Regions from separate parts of the Homo sapiens genome. Here region 1 is linked to region 2. The links come from fine-mapping of genetic effects on gene expression. A gene starts in region 2. The other region holds a variant in brackets. All regions are shown on one strand. Distances are between the middles of the regions.

Region 1 (5,387 bases), 170 kb before region 2:
CTCATCACAGCCTATGCCCTTTGGTAACAAGAAAGCCTTACCCTTCCTGGCTCCTTTCCAAATCCTAATTTGACCTGAGGATATTCTGGGACCTGGAGGAGTATACTAATGACCACAGACCTCACAGTGGGTTTCACCCATTAGTCTTCTTAAACTTTTTGGGGGTACACCGAGATCCTAGATGGCTCTTTGGGTAGCTGACAAAACAGTTCGGCATCACCTCTCTGGATCAAGTTTAGAAAGCAAAAACTCATAGGCGCCTTAACGAGGTGATTAGTTTAATTAATGTGTGGGCATTACATAGGGGATCATTTGAAAAGTAAGTCATCATTATAGTGATTTGTCACTCATTCACACAGCATTCTTTTATTATTTACCAACCCCTAGGAAACTCACCAAATGGCTACCTCATCTTCTGCCAGTTCTATCTGAACCATAATACTTTGGAAGGGGATTTCTAAGTAGAGAATTTTAAATAAAAGTTTAACTGTTCATAAGCCTCAGCACTGAGTCTTGAGTAGTTGTATTGGAGAGCTGCAATTCCAAGCCCCAGTTGGGAAGACTGAAGTCAGATACGGGAGACTGTGGGCAAGTGTGGGCACTGCAGCCAAGGTGATGGGGGCTCAGAGATGGGCCTCAGGAGAAGGAAACCCCAAATCCCAACAGGTACAATTAGGCTGTTAGATTCCACCTTGCAAGGACTACTGTGTTAACTTGCATATCCAAACAAGATGGAAAAAGAAACAGGGCATCAGGGAAAGGTCACAGCTGCCTCCTGACAAGAGAGAGTGTTCAGATAGCCCTGGGTGGCTAGAGCCCTGCCATGCTCACTTACCCAGGATGTGAGGAGCACAAACCAGAAGCTGGGAAAGCAGGCCTTTGGAGTCCCTTTAAAACTCAGATGCTTACCTGGTCCAGGAGCCAACAATTAGAAGATAGTGGGAGCATTCAAACTTTGGCTGTTGGGTGTTTGGAAAGATTGAAAATTCCATGAGACTTTAGTACCAGAGAAGCTCCAAATACTAGGACCATAGAACTGGCAGTTCTTTATTCATTCCATAAATGAATACTGAGCATGTATTGTGTGCCAGGCACTGTCCTGGGCTCTGAGGATACAATATTGAACACATTTCCTCCCTAGGTGGAACTTACATTCTAGTGAGGTAAAGGGTAGGCACACAATAAATCATGAAACAAACTTAAAGGTGCAGTAGATTTAATGGTTAACTTCCAAATCACCTTTGGTAGGCTTCCAAATGAACTCACCTGGGGGAGGTCTTGTGATTTCTGTTGCCATCCTGTCCCTCAGTAAAGTGTCTTATCCTGCATTCCACAAATTGTTTACATATGGATTAATATGTAATGTACCAACATTGAAAAGTTTGCTGATTTATTTTTAAATCATGAAATTTTACTGGTTGTTTTGCACATGGACATTTTAGTCTGTATGTTGCAATTTGGTACAATGATTCTAACCTCCGTATTGTATCCTCTAATAAAAAACGACAACTGCCATATAAAAAGTTCTCTCTTGTTCTAAACTCTCATAAAACCCTTCCAACTTGTAAGACTCTCCAGAACACTCCCAACTTTGTTGGTTTCTCCTCCCAGGTCAGTCCTCACATTTGGCTTCCAATAAACATTTATCCTCTTATTTTTGCCTAACCAGTCTTAATTTTGGTTGACATGGTGATAAATACTATGGAAACAAATTGAATCTAGAGAACTGAATAAGTGTTTGGGATGAGTTAAGAGGGAGGATTGCAATTTTAGAAAGGGTATTCACTTTTTAATGAGGTTATTTGTTTTTGTTTGTTCAATTGTTTAAGCACCTTATAGATTCTGAATATTAGACCTTTGTCAGATGCGTAGTTGGGGAATATTTTCTTCCATTCTGCAGGTTGTCTGCTTACTCTGTGGATAGTTTCTTTTGCTGAGCAGAAGCTTTTGAGTTTAATTAGGTTAACTTGTCAATTTTTGTTTTAGTTGCAATAGCTTTTGAGAACATAGTCATAAATTATTTCCCGAGGGTGATATCCAGAATGGTGTTTCCTAGGTTTTCTTCTAGGATTCTTGTAGTTTGAGGTCTTACATTTCAATCTTTAATCCATGTCGAATTAATTTTTGTATATGATGAAAGGTCAGGATCCAACTATTGGGTACTATGCTCACTACTTGAGTGACGGGATCAATAATATCACAAATCTCAGCATCTCACAATATACCCATGTAACAAAGTTGCACACGTACCCCCTGAATCTAAAATGAAAGTGAAATTACAAAAATAAATAATAAAGACACAAATTCTATGAAGAAAAAGAAAGGTTATTCATAGAAGGCCTCACAGAGAAGATATTTGGAGAGAGACCCAAGGGTGTCTGGAAAGCAGTATTAGCTAGCAGTATTATAGGAGCATGTGTCTAGAAGAGAACAAAGGCGTGCAGTACCTCAGGACCCTGGAACAGAGAGTAGGAGGTAGGGGTCTAGGGAGGCTGGTCTATTGAAGCCAGACCCTTTTCTCTGAGCCATAGGCTGTCTCAGAGCCAGGTCAGCTGCACTGTACCATGAACTGGCTTATTGGATCCAGTATTCTATCCAAGGTTACTGAGTTGGTTTACATTATTCCAGCATTTGAGACGTGGGGTAGGTAGAAGTATAGTTGGAAACAGATTAGTAATGGATTGAAGATTTTTGATGCTGAATATCAAGTATATTGGGTATATTATACTATACTATTTTACATGTCTGACACTTTAATAAAGTTATTTCATCATAATATCATGCCATTAAATTTGAAATCCTAAGTGAAATGAACTATATTTTATAAAAAAAAAAAAATGGCCCGGCGCAGTGGCTCACGCCTGCAATCCCAGCACTTTGGAAGGCCGAGACAGGTGGATCACGAGGTCAGGAGTTCGAGACCCGTCTGGACAATATGGTGAAACCCCGTCTCTACTAAAAATACAAAAATTAGCC[G/T]GGTGTGGTAGCGCACACCTGAAATCCTAGCTACTCAGGAGGCTGAGGCAGGAGAATTGCTTGAACCTGGGAGGAGGAGGTTGCAGTGAGCTGAGATTGTGCCATTGCACTCCAGCCTGGGCGACTGAGCGAGACTCTGTCTCGAAAAAAAAAAAAAAAGATCAAATTGGTCCATAAAGAAACAGAAAACTTTAATCAAACATTACAAACTAAAACTGTATTCTCAGTTCAAGCCACCCACAAATGATCCAGGAAAAGAAAGTTTCAGAGGCCAGTTTTACCAAATAATTAGAACTCATTGCCATCCTAAGCAAACTCTTAAAAACCATACAAAAAGATGGGCAACTGTGGAACTCATTTTCTGAGACTAGTGTTCTTTGTTTCAAATACCAGAAGAGGACCTCACCATGAAAAGAACACTTAAACCAAAGTTACTCACATAGCAACAAATATCCTAAATAAATTAATAGCCAATTCATTAGGGCAGTGTACTAAATGGAAAAACGGGATATATCCAAAGAATGAAAATACAATTTGACATTAAAATATACCTTCAGTGTGATTCCCTATATTAACAAGATTATAGAGGCAAAACATATGATCATATTAATGGATACAGAAAAATATTTTGAAAAAATTAGTAATCATCCATGATAAAAATAACTAGAAAATTAAGAGTAGAAGGAAATTTTGTTTCATCAAATTGATAGCAAATATACTTAATTGTAAAATGTTGGACGCATTCATGTCAGGCACAGGTCATAAATGTATGCTATCATTGCTATTTTTCAAAGTTGTATTGGAATACAAAGCCACAGATATGGATACCAAAATAAATAAGAGGTATGTGTATTGGAAAGAAAGAGTGATATTTGGTAGGGTAATGCAACAGTCTATCTAGAAAATTCAAAAAAATGCACACTTGAAATAGTCAAATGAATAAGAGACGTGTGAAAAATAGCGAACAGAAGATCAATAAAGCAAAATCAAAAGATTTGCAAAACAGACAATAACTATTAAGAACAGGTCATAGAAAATACCCCATTCACAATAGCAACAATATCCAAAAATTACCTAACAAGAAGACTAACAAAAGCATGTATGATTTTTACTGAGGCAACTATACAAGTACTGATATATCCAGTTCAAAGAGCACCCAAATAAACAAGGCAGTATATGATATCATTGATAGGGAACAGAATATTGCAAAGATGGCAATTCTATTTTTTCAAAAATTGACAGACGTAATTCCTTAACCAGCCAAGATGACTGTCAAGCTCAGGCATCTGTTGGTTTTTGATTGTTTGGTTTGGTTTTGTTTTTTTGAGACAGGACCTCACTCTATTTCCAAGGCTGGAGTGCAGTGGTGTGAACACAGCTCACTGCAGCACTGACATCCTGGGCTCCAGTGATCCTCCCACCTTAGCCTCCCTACCAGCTGGGACTGCAGTCACACGCCACCACACCCAGCTAATTTTTCATTTCTTTTTTCTTTTTCTTTTTCTTTCTTTCTTTTTTTTTTGAGATGGGGTCTTGTTATGTAGTTCAGATTAATCTTGAGCTACTGGGCTCAAGTGATCCTCCTGCCTTGGCCTACCAAAGTGTTTGGATTACAGGTGTGAACCACCGCGTTCAGTCTTGGGCTTCTATCTTAGACTCCCCAAAACAACCCGGGAAAACTAAAGAATAAAAATAAATAAATAAAGGAACAAGCAAACAATATCAAAAAAGAAATCTAAACAAAAAAAACATGAGAGAGCCCTGAGAATTTCATTGTATTTTGAAGGAATACTTGTGATTGGCGGGGAAGAGTGGCAGGGAAGTTGGGGTGGATAGGAAGAAAGAAATGTTTAAAATTCTGCCCCTACTTCACTGTGGAAAACTCGGGTAGGGTCTCAGACCACAGGTGCCAGTAGTCATGGGGTAACTTCAGGACATGAGGAAACACTGGTTGATTAAAGGAATACGGCTGGAATTTGTGCTGATAACCACTAAAACCACGTCAGTAAATAAAGATTGGCTTTTTAAAAATTATCGTTTTAATTGAAGATAAAGAATGGATTAAATTAGAGTATTGACCATTAGAGTGAAATAGGCAGTTAGGTTAAGTATGATTTTTGACACTGAATGAGAATTAAAAAATGAAAATCACTAAAATGAACTATGAAGTGTTAGATAAATTCTAAACGCAGGACTTCCGCAAATTTCTTGCAGCCACTCAGCCTCTTCAGTGTAAAAATAAAGCTTTCAGGGCAAAAGTTTGCAAAGTCTAGATCTGGCTGGGGAGGAGCCCCCGTAGGAAGGTGTGCATCTTCTCCCAGAGGTCACTACAATCACGGGTACTGAAGCCACATGGAAGCACCTAGCCTGGGATCCGCAGCTATTGTCTGCAAGGGGTGCAGTTGGGCAAT
Region 2 (5,387 bases):
CCCTCTTAACTGTCTTCGCAACTTTTCTGTAAATTTAAAATTACTCTAAAATGTTTACTAAAAAAAAAAAAACACTTAAAGGAATGGGGAAAAAAGCCAAAAATGGGGAGAAAATACTTGTAAACCCCGTGTCGGATAAAGGATTCATATACTGAATGAATAAACACCTTATAACATGCAACCACATAAAAATGAAGAGTCCAATAAAATAGTAAATGATTTCAAGACTTCACCAATGAAGATACACAGATCACAAAAAAGCATATGAAAAGATGATTACCATAATTATTCAATAAAAATACAAATGTAAACAGCAGTAACATTCTTCTACCCACCTGTTACAATTGATACAATGCAACAACCTGAAAATACCAAATTGTACAAAAGATGTGGCATTCTCTTTCATTGCTGGTAGAGAAGAAAAAGAACACATTCACTCTAGAAGGGGCTTTGGCTATTTCTAATATAGCAAAACTTAGACTTACCATTACACACAGCAATTGTACTCCTAGGTTTTATCAAGGAAAATTGGAAACAGGTTCATACACACAAAATCACGTACACAAAAACATATATAGCAGCTTATTTGAAATTGACAATCAATACTTTTTCCAATTGGTGAATGGATAAAACCAATGGTACGTCCACAAACTGAAAATGTATTTAAAGCTCAATCCACCCTCTACCGTTCTAAGGCAGGCAGTTTTGTGGGTCAGTTCCCCCAAGTGGTCAGGGAAAACGAATCACCATATTAACTCTTCCAAATAATCCCAAAATACGGGCAATTATTCAACGAATTCTCCAAGGCTCCTTCTCCTGCATTGGGGGGGAAAAAAAGATAAAGACATCCAGCCTTTATAAAAAGAACATATGAGCCAAGTGTTCACTCATATTGCAGCAAATGTCCTAAATAGATAATTGTATATTCAACACAACAGTGGACTAATGAACAAGCAGCTCGTATGCAAGGAATAAAAATACAGAAAAAGCCTCTGAAATGAATTTTATCATATTTTCAAATTAACATTTTTAGCAAATGAAGATTAAAAGGCACTTTAATTTTCTAAAACTGACAGGAAACATACTTGAATGTGAAATGTTAGAAGCATTCCCATTCTCGTCAGGAGCAAGTCATTGATGTATGCTTTCACTGCTACCGTTCACAGCTGCAGTGAATGCTGAAATGAAAAAGAGAGCTATGGATATCAAGATGAAAAAGAGGTATGAAGATTGAAAAGAAATAGATCATATTTTTCACAATATGACCATCAAGAAAATTCAAAGGAAGAGACACATGGAACATTCAAATGAATAAGAGACTTCAGAAGACAGCATACAAAGACCACTGCAGCGAATACAAGAGACTTGTCACAGATGAGCAACTTAGAACATAAAATGAAAAATATACCATCCCCAACAGCATTTAAATCCAAAATATAAAGAAGAAGAAGCCTAACCAAAATATGCAAGACATTTACAGAAGCAACTGTACAAGTTTGCTGACAGATTCAGAGAAAAAATTCCCAAATAAATGGAGTAGTATATGATGTTCACTGATGAGGAATAGAATACAGCAAAGGTGTAAATCTTACTTAAATTAAATAAACAGTTAATGCCTACCTGTAGCTGCCAAAGTGACAATCAAGCCCAGGCTGCTGTGCTCTACTCCCAAAATCAACTGTGTAAAAATATAGAAGGGAAAAAGAAAAATAAAACAACAATATCAGCAACAAAGTCTAAACAACAAAACATAGAAAACCCTGGGGAAAAAACTGTGTTGAACTGGTACTTGTGTTCTGGGCAGTTGGAGAGGCAGGGAGGTTGAGGAGGTCTGCAGCCACTGCAGACGACAGGGTGAGTTGCAGGAAAAGTTTTAAAGGACCACCCCACATCAATGTAGGATCCGAGTCTGCACCTCAAAACACGAAGCCAGTAGCCCAGGGGTAATATCAGGACACCAGGAAAATTGGATTGATTGAGACACCATGGCTCCAGAATTCTGCTAATAACAACTAGAAACAAAGAGTAGGTTAGGACTACCTTCCAAAATACTATTATTTTAATCAAATATATATAATGAACTAGAAATAGAATAGTATGAGTGAATCACACATTGTATGAGTAGATATTGTTTGATAAAATAAGTACGTATAGTCGACATACATATATGTATAAATATATGTAAAGATATATACACATACATTCATATAATTACACATATATAATATAAACATATACATACATATGTGTTTATGCATATAAACATAAATATAATGCACATATACAATTGGCATAGATTTAAAATTCGTTTCTTACTATACGAATGCGAATTAAATTATGAAAATCACTAAAGTGGAATAGGAATTGTTAGGTAACTTCAAAACTCAGGACTTCCACAAATTTATTGCAGCTACTCAGTTTCTTCAGTGTAAAAATAAATCATTTAGTACAAAAGTTTTGCAAAATCCTCTTCTAGCTGGGGAAGAGCCCCCGTGGGAAGGTGTGCCTCTTCTCCCAGAGGTCACTACAATCTTAGGTGCTGCAAACCCACAGGGAGAATCTGGCCTGGGACCCGCAGCCATTCTCTGCAAGGGGTGCAGCTGTGCAAATGCTCAGAGGTGACAGAAACAGAGTATCTCCTAAAAGAGCCAAGAGTCAAGAAGAGGACCCTCCTGAGTGAGGACTGAGGGTCCACCCACACCACATAGAGGGGCCACATAATTCAGCTCAGACCCTCATGTCAGCCCTGAAAGACCCCAGCAGCCTTGTCCCCCCACCACACCCTTCCCCCCACTGCCACCTCAGGGGACTCGGAATCAGAACCTTGGTCTGAGGGAAGCAGACACCATCAGCAGAGTACGGAGCTCCAGGCTCTGCCAGATCTCAAAGTGAGAACCTTGAGGGATGACTGAACCGCTCCTCCCTCATCCCCCGCCCCACTAGAATCCGGTTCCGCCCCTGTTGTCCACCCAGGTGAGCCCTGGGTGGACGGATGTGACGCCACTGACGTGGCCGCGGGGATCAGAGAGAAGCGAGGGCCTGGTTCTGAGGGGTCGGCTTGAGATCGGCTGAGGGAAGCGGGCTCAGGGTCTGTGAGGAGGCAAGGTGAGACCCTGAGGGAGGACTGAGGAGGCCCCCACCCCTCATATAGGACCCAAAATAATCTAGCGCCGCCCCTGCTGCCAGCCCTGGACCACCAGGGGGCAGACTTGTCTGGCTGGGCCACCCCTCGCCAGCCCTGCGCTTAAGCCCCAGGGGAATCTGGAGTGAGAGCTTGGTGTGACCAGAGCAGGGCTGGTTAGCAGAGGGCAGGGCCCAGGTTCTGCCAGGCATCAAGGGCAGGACCCTGAGGGAGGGCTGAGGCTCCACAGAGCACATCTCTGCCCCTACTGTCAGCCCTGGGAAGCCCTAGGCATGGCGGCCGGGCATGGCGGCCGGGCATGGCGGCCGGGCATGGCGGCCGGGCATGGCGGCCGGGCATGGCGGCCGGGCTCGCTGATTCTGACGTCCGCATCCGGGGCTGATGCAGCAAAGGGGCTTCATGAGCACGGACTCAAGAGGAGCAGAGGGAGGGCCCAGGCTATGCTGGGAGATGAGGAGGCCCGAGGGGACCCAGGACCCCAGGACAGGGGGCCCACCCTACCTGTCTGAGACTGAGGGGCCTCCACATTTGGCCTCAGGAATCCGAGGGACTGAAACTCAAGTCAGCAGGGGGGTGGTGAACAGCCCTGCCAGGAGTCAAGGAGAAGAAGAAGAGGGAGGACTCAGGGGTCCTTGGACTCCAGATCAGTGGAGATCTCAGCCTTGGGAAGTCCCAGGATCTGTGGCTGCATGTGGCGCATCCTTGCTGCATTTTCAGGGTGTCAGAAAGGAGACAGCTGTGGTCTGAGGAGTGGAGTCTCAGATCACTGGAGAGAGGTGCCCCAGAGCCCTTAAGGAGGACTCAGCAGACCTCCCATCATGGCCTAGGAAACCTGCTCCCACTCTCAGGTCTGGGCACCCAAGGCAGGACAGTGGGGAAGGGATGTGGCCCCCCCACTTTCTGGTAGGGGGCCTCAAGGAGATGGTGGCCTTGGCATGCAAGACACATCCACGGTTCAGCAGGAAGGAAAGGGCCATGCCTTGTCGTGGAGTAAATATGAATACCTGGATGACACCCAGACAGAGAAAGACCCCATGAAACCTACTACTTCTGTCAGCCGTGGGAATCCCATGCAGGGTTGTCCATGTAGTGCCTCCTTACTTCTGCCTCCTGGGTCTCAGGGAGGTAGCAACCTGGGTCTGAAGGGCGTCCTCAGCTCAGCAGAGGGAGCCACACCTGTTCAACAGAGGGACGGGGTCACAGGATCTGCAGGACCCAAGATGTGCTCACTTTGTGATGAATGGGGGTACTCCTGGCCTGGAAAGAAGGGACCCCACAAAGTCTGGCTAACTTTGGTTATTATCTCTGGGGGAACCCGATCAAGGGTGGCCCTAAGTGGAGATCTCATCTGTACTGTGGGCAGGAAGTTGGGGAAACGCAGGAAGATAAGGTCTTGGTGGTAAGGGGAGATGTCTGCTCATATCAGGGTGTTGTGGGTTGAGGAAGGGCGGGCTCCATCAGGGGAAAGATGAATAACCCCCTGAAGACCTTAGAACCCACCACTCAAGAACAAGTAGGGACAGATCCTAGTGTCACCCCTGGACACCCCACCCAGTGGTCATCAGATGTGGTGGCTCCTCATTTCTCTCTTGAGATCTCAGGGAAGTGAGGACCTTGTTCTCAGAGGGCAACTCAGGACAAAACAGGGACCCCCATGTGGGCAACAGACTCAGTGGTCCAAGAATCTACCAAGAGTCTAGGTGACAACACTGAGGGAAGATTGAGGGTACCCTCGATGGTTCTCCTAGCAGGCAAAAAACAGATGGGGGCCCAACAGAAATCTGCCCGGCCTCTTTTGTCACCCCTGAGAGCATGAGCAGGACTATCAGCTGAGGCCCCTGTGTTATACCAGACTCATTGGTCTCAGGGAGAAGAAGGCCTTGGTCTGAGGGCACTGCATTCAGGTCAGCAGAGCGGGGGTCCAAGGCCCTGCCAGGAGTCAGGGACTCAGAGGACACCACTCACCAAACACACAGGACCGAACCCCACCCTGCACCTTCTGTCAGCCATGGGAAGTGCAGGGAAAGGTGGGTGGATGGAATCCCCTCATTTGCTCTTCCAGTGTCTCCTGGAGATAGGTCCTTGGATTAAGGAAGTGGCCTCAGGTCAGCCCAGGACACATGGGCCCCAATGTATTTTGTGTAGCTATTGCTTTTTTCTCACCCTAGGACAGGACACGTGGGCCCCATTGCATTTTGTGTAGCTATTGCTTTTTTCCCAGGAGGCCTTGGGCATGTGGGGCCAG

Direction of the effects. Positions count from the first base shown, and alleles are read on the strand shown. Sizes are in standard deviations (SD) of each study's normalised expression.
With allele T in place of G in region 1, the expression in cerebellum of the gene that starts at base 3,003 in region 2 is lower (large effect, 1.0 SD a copy in GTEx).

Evidence for each region.
Region 1: its variant is fine-mapped to the expression of MAGEA8 in cerebellum (GTEx, PIP 0.98).

Annotation. Positions count from the first base shown.
Region 1 is chrX:149,706,166-149,711,552 of GRCh38, forward strand. It overlaps a transcript of MAGEA11 not described here. Among named protein-coding and RNA genes, the nearest start is that of MAGEA11, 3.2 kb to the right of the region's middle. The variant G/T (reference allele first, on the strand shown) is at 2,977.
Region 2 is chrX:149,878,181-149,883,567 of GRCh38, forward strand. MAGEA8 (MAGE family member A8) reads left to right here and starts at 3,003. Exons shown (of 3, transcript NM_005364.5): 1 at 3,003-3,105. It overlaps LINC00850 (long intergenic non-protein coding RNA 850), which reads left to right. Exons shown (of 3, transcript NR_109813.1): 3 at 1,167-1,619. MAGEA8-AS1 (MAGEA8 antisense RNA 1) reads right to left here. Exons shown (of 5, transcript NR_102703.1): 2 at 4,188-4,318; 3 at 1,621-1,678; 4 at 1,086-1,178; 5 at 583-816.